3 linked regions of the Homo sapiens genome follow. The protein of the gene in region 2 purifies or fractionates together with the protein of the main gene of each other region. This does not show direct contact. Each region holds a gene or a part of one and is shown on either strand. Other genes may lie near its edges. The genes, in order: KLHL18, IL1F10 and N4BP1.

Region 1 (3,656 bases), on a different chromosome or scaffold from region 2:
GAATCACACAACATTTGTCCTTTTGTAACTGGCTTATTTCACTTAGTGTAATGTCTTCAAGGTTCACCCATGTTGCAGCAGAATTTTCTTCTTTTTAAAGGCTGAGTAATATTTCACTGTATGTATATACTTTTTTTTTTTTTTTTTTTGAGACAGGGTCTCGCTGTTGCCCAGGCTGAAGTGCAGTGGTATAATCATGGCTCACTGCAGCCTTGACCTCCCGGGGCTCAGGTGATTCTCGCACCTCAGCCTCCCAAGTAGCTGGAACTACAAGTGCATACCACCACGCCTGGCTAATTTTTGTATTTTTTGTAAAGACAAGGTTTTGACATGTGGCCCAGGCTGGTCTCAAACTCCTGGGTTCATGCCATCTGCCTGCCTTGGCCTCCCAAAGTGCTGGGATTATAGGCATCAGCCACTGTGTCCAGCCATATACCATATTTTGTTTATCCATTCACCCAGTGGTAGACCCTTGGGTTGCTTCCACCTTTTGGCTATTGTGAATAATGCTGCTGTGAACATTGGTGTACAAGTATCTATCTGTTCTTGAGCTTATTTTTTGAAAGCTTTTTTTTTTTTGAGATGGAGTTTCACTTTTGTTGCCTAGGCTGGAGTGCAATGGCACGATCTCGGCTCACTGCAACCTCTGCCTCCTGGGTTCAAGCAATTCTCCCGCCTCAGCCTCCCGAGTAGCTGGGACTACAGGCATGCGACACCACGCCTGGCTAATTTTATATTTTTAGTAGAGATGGGGTTTCACCATGTTGGTCAGGCTGGTCTCGAACTCCTGACCTCAGGTGATCCACCCACCCTGGCCTCCCAAAGTGCTGGGATTACAGGCGTGAAAAGCATTTTTGTGTTCTGATCAGCTATTCAGAACACTCTGCCCACATATACCATTATATTGGGTCATATTTGAACTACAGTTCACCTATTTTGCCTGCCAAAAGCCCAAGCTCTGACCTTTACCTTCAAGGCCCTGAACACAGACTGTCTGTTTCACTGGAACGTAAGAGCCATCAGGGTCTCTGGCCTGCCATTCTGCCAGCAGCTAAGCATCCTCAGCTTCAACTGAGACAGAATGGGAGCATGGTGTCTTTAGTTAAGACTTTGGAAACATTCTGCTTCAAGTTCCAGCAGAGCGTGAAGGCTTTACAAATGAGATGCTAAATTTAACAGTAACTTCTATGTTACTTACTCACTTACTAATCAGTATAGTCCCATGATCACCTGTAGTAAGCTGGGAAAATTTTTTTCACTTCCGGTTCATTTGTATTCTTTAACAAGAAATGCTTCAATTCCTAAATACTGTGTTGAAACTACAGAAGTATATGCTAGAGCAATAAATAATAAAAATAAAACCTACTTCAAAAGCCTTAGAGGCCCTATCAGTATATAACAGGTCAGTAAACTATAGGCAACGGATTCAGCTCATGCTTCTTTTGTAAAGTTTCACTGGAACACAGCCACACCCATTCATTTATACATTGTGTATAGCTGCTTTTGCACTATAGCATCAGAGTTAAGTAGCTGCAACTGAAACTATATTACCCACGAATCCTTAAGTATTTACTATCTGGCCCTTTACAGAAAATGCTTGTTAACTCTTAGTTCACGCACCTTGGTTCACCCACTTTTGTCCCCAATTGGAAAAAAGTGGTGATGTAATCAGCTGCTTGGATGTTCTTCCTAAGGTCTTCCTAAGCTAACCACAGGCCAGCTGGCTGGTTCCATGCCAAAGAGGCAATGACAGTGCCAATACTCAACAAGTTCGAAAGTAGAAAGGTAGCTGCCATGCTTGTAATTTGGGAAGGGCTAGGAACACACATTTAGAAAAACAATGTGGTCTCATCTTCCATCAACTAGCCTACAAGCTAAACCAAGTGGGGCTAAGGGGCAAACAATGGAGTCTCATGTACAGAATAATAAAGGAACCGTCTGCAGTTAAGAAACATCCCCAAGCACAGGCTTCTTAAATGTACCTGGCGAGCCAGTCAGCCAGCCAGCAAGCTCCAGAAGCCTTAGGGTGAACATGATGAATGTTGCTTGACTGGTAACGGATAGTCCAGGCTGTACCTCCAACTCTCTTTCCCCACCCACATGTCAGGCAGCATCAAGCTCTCTAATTCACCTAATTGGTGTCCAAATTTAACAGCATTATTCACAACATAACTTGAACAAGGAGATTAAAACTGAATTTTTGATAGGAAATTTGTATAACAAGTGCTGTGCCCCTCAAGGAGCATGTTCTTCCTCTCAGTTCTTATTGCTCATTAGAAAGAGACAAGGCTGGGCCAGGTGTGGTGGTTCATGCCTGTAATCCCAGCACTTGGGGAGGTGGAAGCAGGAGGATCGCTTGAGCCCAGGAGTTTGAGACCAGCCTAGACCACAAGGTGAGGCCCCATCTCTCAAAAAATAAACAAAATTAGCCAGGCGTGGTGGCATACACCTGTGGTCCCAGCTACTTGGGAGGCTGAGGTGGGAGGATGGCTTGAGCCAGGGATTTCGACGCTGCAGTGGGCTGTGATCCACCACTGTACTCCAGCCTGGGCAAGAGATGAGACCCTGTCTCAAGGAAAAAAAAAAAGAGGGAGACAAAGCTAACTACACAGAGAGAGATAAACCTAACTACATGAAAAATGTCAGTAGAAAACCCTGGGAATGAGCAATATTCAGAAGCACAAGTTTTCCAATACAATGTCATTTCAAAATCAGAGTCAAGAATTCATATGTCTAAAAGACTAGTAGAAAAAGCCTGCATCTTCTCTCCTGAAATAAAATGTTGGTGTGGCATCTGGACATTCACATCTTTGCCCTCTGTGCTCAAGAATGACACTAAGGATGCTTTGTTCCCTACTATGCTTCATACCATCAGCAGGGCAGGTGAATAATCTGACAGGATGTAAAAGCATGGCTTCCACCAATAAACAGCTGTGTTAGATCTCAGCTGATACAGCTTTGTGCCATGGGCAAATCCCTTAATAGCTCTAAGCCTCAGGGTTTTTTACATCTGTAAAATGATGGCTTAAAAATGTTTTTATTTGTATAAATTTAGGGGTACAAGGGCAGTTTTGATACATGGATATATTGCATAGTGGTGAAGTCTGGGCTTTTAGTGTAACCATCATCCAAATAATGTACATTGTACCCAGTAATTTCTCATCCCTCATCCCACTCCAGTCTCCATTCATTCCACACTCTATGTCCATGCATTCACATGTAAAATGATAGCTTTGATAGGGAACCTCTACAATTCTCTTTTTTCTTTTTTTGAGACAGAGTCACGCTATTGCCAGGCTGCAGTGCAGTCGTTCAACTATGGCTCACACTGCAGCCTTGACCTCCTGGGCTCAAGCAATCCTCCCACCTCACTTCCCAAAGTGCTGAGATTACAGATGTGAGCCACCGTACCCAGCCTACAGCTCCTTTTAATATGATTATTCTAGCTCTATAATTAACCCTGTGTAACTCACTGTACTATATACACAACATAAAAATGGTATGCATCAACAAGCCCTTACTTCATTTCCTCATATCCTTCTCCACCTACTCTTTCATCACAAAGCCAGTGGTGACAACAAATTAGGCAAGATTCCAGATTCAAATGTGTAGCTCTTGAAGCCAATTTCGTGAAAACTGTGTGCCTACATTTAGTG
Region 2 (2,843 bases):
ACCCTTAGCTAATGACTGTACATATTTAAAGCAGGTTCACTTGTACAATAAAAATAAACTTCCGGAAAGATCCTGGGCGTGTTATCTGGCATTCCCCTTGCCACCTTGACAACCCAGATGTGACAACTCACATGCCAGCAGCATTCTATTTGGAGACCAGAACCCAGATTAGATGCCCTGAAGTGCTGACATCTGCTTTGTCATTTATGTGCTTCCTATGTATGTGTCTTGCTTCCCAGCCAGGCTGTCACCTCCTTGAGACCAGGACTGCTCCCCACCCACCTTGTCCAGGACACAGCCCTGGACATTACAGGGTCCATGGGAGGGGCAGAGGAAATGCATCCCAGAGTCCTCTTTGATTTTTCTTATGCCTCACCTCCTTCCTGAAAGGAGCTTATGACAAAATCACAGACAACAAAGTAGTAAAAGATAAGGAAGGATGCAAATCTCAAATGAGATGAAATGTAAGTAAGTGTTAGAAGCCCACACTGGGAGTAAAGGCCACAGGGACCACCATCAAGATGCTGTCATTGAGATTCAAAACTTTCTGACATTTCAGAGAGGCGGATGGAGCAGCACAGAGGACATGAAGTCTGATTCCTGGCTCTGCCTTTTGGTAGCTGTGTGACATGGGGGAAGTTATTTACCCTCTTTGAGCCTCAGCTTCCAGATCTGTAAAATGGGTTTAATAACACTCCACTTACAGACTTTTTGGAACAGAGATGAGGCAGTAGATTGGCTGGCATCTTGCAGACGTTCAGGAAAGAGCTGTTGCTACTGTGGTGATGATGAAGCTTAATTATGGGGCACTTGCAATTTCTAAGGTGAGAAGGAGCCTCATCCTCTGACTCAGCATTCCTTTCCTCTTCCCACCCTGACCCCCTGGCTTGGAAAGCAGGGACATGCCAGGACAACTTACATGTAGTATCTTGCCATGGGGAGGGAACACATTCCTGCAATCAGTGGTGTCTGGTCCTCACTGATGGGGAGGAGAGAAGGGCAGTTAGAAAAGGAGGCTGGGTGAAGCCAGAGGCAGACGTGCTGGGGCTTAGAACCACTCAGCCAAGGGCTGCACGGGTTCCCCAGGCCATTCGTCTATAATTGGCCTGCCAGAATCCACCAAGGCTTCCACCAGCCCAGCAGGCTCCAGGCAGCTCTGCCTCTCCCTGACTGAGGCTATCCGGGAGCAAGTCCAGCCACCAGGGGTGTGAGCCTGGGATGTGTGTGCTTGCGCTGGTTCTGAGAAACTGGAAAACAGATTCCCCCAAATAGCTGAGCCACAACAATTCCCAGCCCTGAGAGTGGGGTGGAGTGTGCTGTAGCCTCCCTCACAGTTGGAGGATAAGCCCAGCTCAAACCCAGTCCCACTGCCCTGTTGGCCAACAGGGCACCACACCCCCGCCCCCATAACTAGCCAAGGGTTAGATAACTAGAGCCCAGAGTGAAAGAAGAGAGCACAACTAGAAGGGGTCTCCAGCAGCAGTGAGGCTGGTGGGGTCTCCCCAGAGAGTTGGAAAACATCATTCCTAGTGACTAGAAGTGCTTGGCCAAGACTGCCGAAAACAGCCCATCCAAACTCCCCCATTCTGTTCCAGATGGAAAATGGCACAGTGAAGATAGTGGCCCTGTATAAATGCCAGGCCACACAGCCTCACATGACTCTGCTCCTTCCCGATGGGTTATCCTGTCCTAGAGCTCTTCCCTAAAATGAACACCCATTGGAAAGGCCAGTCCAGAATTTAGCATGGAAATAAACCCAGAGCTAATCAGGAGTTGGAAATTAGCTCAGGAAAGTAACGCAAGTATGACTAGGGCTGAGGTTTACCGAGTAGATCTGATTCTCACCAAATAAGAAGGGAATAGAGAAGAAAAAATATAAGAAAGCAGAAAATGAGAGAAGAGAAAGGAAGAAGGCAGGTGGAAGAAAGTAATAGGGCTCAGGGAGGAATAGAGAGATGCTGAGGGACCCTGGGGAGGCAGGTGAGAAGGAACAGGTGGGTGCTGAGGATACGGCTTCCAACCACCTCAGCTCTCAAGTTCCAGAAACAGGGCTGTAGCCAAGGTGGCTTTTAGTACTGGGTCTGTCACTGTCACTTTGGACAAGTCATTTTCTGTCCCCAGGCCTTGGGGTATGACTTTGAGACTTAGAGTGAAGGATAATAGGGACTAACAAGTGCAAATTCTGGAGGGATGTTGGTGCTGTGAATGAAAGTCTTAAAGCATTCTGTATACTTTGTGATTGCATGTGTTTCCCTTACTCTTAGGAAAAATAACGGATTGCCCAAATGTTTACTTACAAAAATGTTCACTGCATAATTTTTTACAATAGCAAGAAGTTGAAAAAAATCTGAATTTTCAGTAATAGGTAATTGGCTAAGAAATTATAGCAAAATTCAATAAATAAGGATGTATGTGTTTGTTAAAGATGATATTATAGAAGCTTGTTTTAGGACATAAAAATTTTCAAAATATATTAGGTGAAAAATGCAGATTATAAATCAAGTGTACACTGTAATTCTATTTAAATCCACACATAGAGACACATACATAGAAATGTTACTCGTGTTGTTGCACCACTTACCTATGGCTTTATGAGTAATTTTTTAAACATATCAACATTTTCCTATAATGAACATGAATTTCCTTTGTAGTATCAAGTAAGTTTCAACATTTTTTAAATGAAGTGTTCAGTTAAAGTCATTGGCTCCTAAATGTGCCTGCCCATCTGCATCACCTGGGGGACTCTGTATAATTACTATTTCCTGGGCCGAAGGTTCTAATTCAGTAGGACTTGGAGTGATTCCAGCAATCAGCCATGCTGCTTGGGAACTGGTGTACTTTCA
Region 3 (3,656 bases), on a different chromosome or scaffold from region 2:
GCAGGTGGTAATTTGTCTACTCATGGGTATTAGAAAGAAAAAAAGACTAAAATCTCAAACTGTGATGCTGTAGTTTATGAGATTAGCATAATCTATGTTCACTGCTTCAATGGTCACTTAGATTCCAGCGACAATACTCCCTGCATCTTCAGTCCTATCTTCTCTCCATGTCTAATGCTGCATGCCAAAACTGCTCTGTAGAAATACTTCACTTGAAAGTCCTGCCATGATGGGCATATGTGTCCCGAGTTAAACCCAGGCTCTCCTAATTCCAACCTACCCTGCAAATTCCAGTGAAACTAACTTTTAAATGCAGCCCAAGGCCTTTGATTCTGCTCAGGGCCTTCAAAGGCACTGTCCTACACTAATCCTGCCTGGCTTCCAGGACCCCTCCTCGTCTGACTCGTCAGAAAGGATCTGGCCAAGTGACCCTCCCACTACCATGAGACAACCCTCTTGGTTTTGGCCAGGTCTTGCTATCTCACCCCTCCCGGTCTCTGAGCCTTTCCTTATGTTGCTTTCTATATGTGTGATGCTCTTGCACCTTTCCTTGCTCCTTCTTCAAATGCCCTCAGGACTGAATGGGCTGAATTCTGGCCCGTCTTCTTCTATGAAGTTATTTCTAGACACAGGGCCTCTCTCAGCCTCCTTCCTCTTCTGAGTTCCAATCCTGTATGGTGCACGAGAATCACAGAGATAGAATGGCATTATGCCTGTTAGAAAAAGGAGTCACTAGGGAAAGAGCAGCCTGCCTGGGTTGCAGAGCCAGGGGGATGAGCTGGATCATACTCCGGCTTCCTCACGCCTGCCCTTTCCACGACCCCACAGTGGGACTGTCACCCCACCTGCATGTGCGTTCCTTGAGAGCAGGAAGAGGCTGGACACTTCACGAACATCTAATGCTCTGTGAGATTCACAAGAGCTACGCACAGACTCCTCTTTTTAAAGGCTATTTCTTTTTCAGTGAACCATAAATAAGATATTTCAGAGGCTCTTACCCCAGAAAATATATGTAAATAAACACACGCAATCTTGATAATTCAGGAGTGCTTTGTTTATCTAAAGGCATTCAAATATGGCAAGAAGGTAACAAAGTGACATTTTTAACTAGAAAAAAGACTGGGGGTGGTTCTTTAAAGGGGGCCTCTTTTAATCTTCCAAAAACAATAAATCATCCATCACTCTAATTGCTTAACAGCAGGGACATGCCCAGAGTTAACATCAACCACAGCCCTAATTTGAAAATCCACAACAGAACAACCTGCTGGTTCTTAGAAAAACCAAGAAATATGTATATTTAGTCCTCAAAAGGATAACCCTTGAGATAACTGCACTGAAAAGGTTTTTAAGGTGGCTCCCTGATTACTTTGACAGATACAAATGTGTGCTACCTACTCTCCCTCTTTTCCTTAAAGCTTCTAGTGATGGCAAGAGGAGGAACTGGATAGAGGAGGAGTACCCAGTTCAATTCCACTGGGTCACTATGTAACAAGGAAGGAAATGCAGACCGATGAATTCTGCTGCCCTGGACTCCTTACAAGTCTAGAGGGGGAACAGATGGAGGTTCTAGAAACATCAGCTCTCAACTAAATTCCAAAGTGTTATTCTCAGTAATAAGATCATATCACTTTTGATACTCTAAAAAAATCTCAGGAATGGAATTAAAATAGAGGTTCAAAATTCTGGTGGAGAACATACAAATTTACCCAAAAAATAAAACTACAATGACAAAAAATTAAGTGAAGCCAAATTATTGTCCTCAAAATAATACAGAGGGTCGATTAAGGACCCTTCTTCCTACTTCAAGTCCTATACCCTGAGCAGGCAGACATGTGCTTACTCATCACTGTCTCCTAGCCTCTCTGCAATCAAACCAGAGTAGCATGTTGACAGGTAAACCCAGACCAAAGGTCTATTTCGACCCAAAGTATATATATAATAACACCTTGCTACTTATGGGAAGGCCAAAGCTCTGGGGCTCCCAGTTCCAAATGCAGAATGAACAGTTATCAAGTCTGGGAGGCCAGGTGTCCAGGCCCTCAAGACATTTAAATGCCTGCTTCCATATAATTGGTTAAAGGTTATATCATCTGGTTGTTTGCCATATTATAGAATGCTGGCAACTAAAAGAAAGTGTCCAAAGTGGAGGAGAGATGGGTGACACACAGCTGATAAAAACTCATGGCAGCCATAGCACCAGACAGGGCAGTGTGGGGACAATGGAAAGTCCTTTCTGAGTTACCCAGGAAAAAGCGATTTCTTTTTATGGAACCCTAATATGGAAAAGACTAGTATGGAAAAAAAAATGGCTAAAATACTTAATTCTGGCAAGGGAAGGGGCAAACCCCATCTACATGGAAAACTATCACCCCATATGTCAGGGGCTCTCATGCTGAAGTTTCAGGCTGACAGAGCCCAAATGTTTCTTGGCCACTACTGTGCTGTCTAGCCATACACCACAAACAATTTCCACTTACTCATCATTTGACTCATTCATGGTGACAAGGGGGCAAGAACAAGGTATACAAAATTGGCAGCATTAAACAGGGTACTGTGGAGGTTTTCATGGTGGTATGGGCTGCAGACCTCATTCTGGATAGGCAAATGAACAAAGGCTTTACAAAAATACATCGAAGGGTGGGCCTAGGCTGCTTTAGGGTGGGGCTCACACCAACAGATCCTATTGCTTAAGGACCAAATAAGTACTTCCCCAACTACTTGGGTCAAATCAGTGAGCTTTAGTCAGCAGTGCTATGCAACCCAAGACTTAAGTATCCAATGATGCGTTGGCCTGAAAATTCCAACCTTAACTTCTGCTGGAGGAGAGAGGGTATACAGCAGCTCTGGGGAAAGACATTATGGGCCCAAATCTCTATCCATGTAACCCTGGAAAACATTTTTAAGCCACTTCATGTTGTATAAATTATAACTTTTGACTCACAATTGGTGTGAAGGTTGCATTTTTAAAAATACAGTGCCTGACACATAATAATGGGTGATTCGGCTTTAAAATCTCAAATATTTGTTGCATTAAATATATGGCCTCAGTTAAAAATCTAAACTGGCCACTGGAATAGTAACCATGAAGTTACAAATAGGTAGTAAAAAGCCACTAAAAAAATCCTAAACTGGGCATGGTAAGGCATGCCTATAGCCTCAGCTACTAGGAAAGATTGCCTGAGCCCAAAAGTTTGAGTCCAGCCTGGGCAAAATAGTGAGACTTTACCTCTTAAAAAAAGAAAAATTCTAATTTGCCTTTAATTCATCAACAAGTTTTTACTGAGCTCCTACTATGTGTCAGGGACTATGGGTATTAGAGGTAGTTCACTGAACAGAAGAAACACAAATCAGTTTCTTCATGGAATCTAGTCAAAGTTTATTCACACTTAACATTGAAGCAACTGATTTAAAATAAGGGCTGATTTTTTTCCAACTTCCAAAAAAAATTGAGGTAAAATTCACACGACTAAAATAATCAATTCAATGGCATTTACTACGTTCGCAATGCCGTGCAACCACCACTTACATCTAGTTCCAAAATGTTTGTCACTCCAAAATAAAACTCTATACCCATTACGCAGTTTCTTCCTAGAATATGGGTAAATCTTAATTACTGATATTTTCAGATCAATTTACATCAAATTAAGTACAAGTCT

Evidence for each region.
Region 1: the proteins of IL1F10 (region 2) and KLHL18 purify together in Homo sapiens (affinity purification with mass spectrometry; one large-scale study listed by BioGRID and IntAct). This does not show direct contact.
Region 3: the proteins of IL1F10 (region 2) and N4BP1 purify together in Homo sapiens (affinity purification with mass spectrometry; one large-scale study listed by BioGRID and IntAct). This does not show direct contact.

Annotation. Positions count from the first base shown.
Region 1 is NC_000003.12:47,289,398-47,293,053, reverse strand, and holds part of KLHL18 (kelch-like protein 18), read right to left. Parts: intron 1-3,656. UniProt on the Homo sapiens protein: Substrate-specific adapter of a BCR (BTB-CUL3-RBX1) E3 ubiquitin-protein ligase complex required for mitotic progression and cytokinesis.
Region 2 is NC_000002.12:113,070,847-113,073,689, reverse strand, and holds part of IL1F10 (interleukin-1 family member 10), read right to left. Parts: intron 1,373-2,843; exon of another isoform or gene 980-1,372; 5' UTR 952-979; coding exon 920-951; intron 1-919. UniProt on the Homo sapiens protein: Cytokine with immunomodulatory activity. Alone, does not induce cytokine production, but reduces IL22 and IL17A production by T-cells in response to heat-killed Candida albicans. Reduces IL36G-induced production of IL8 by peripheral blood mononuclear cells.
Region 3 is NC_000016.10:48,554,535-48,558,190, forward strand, and holds part of N4BP1 (NEDD4-binding protein 1), read right to left. Parts: intron 1-3,656. UniProt on the Homo sapiens protein: Potent suppressor of cytokine production that acts as a regulator of innate immune signaling and inflammation.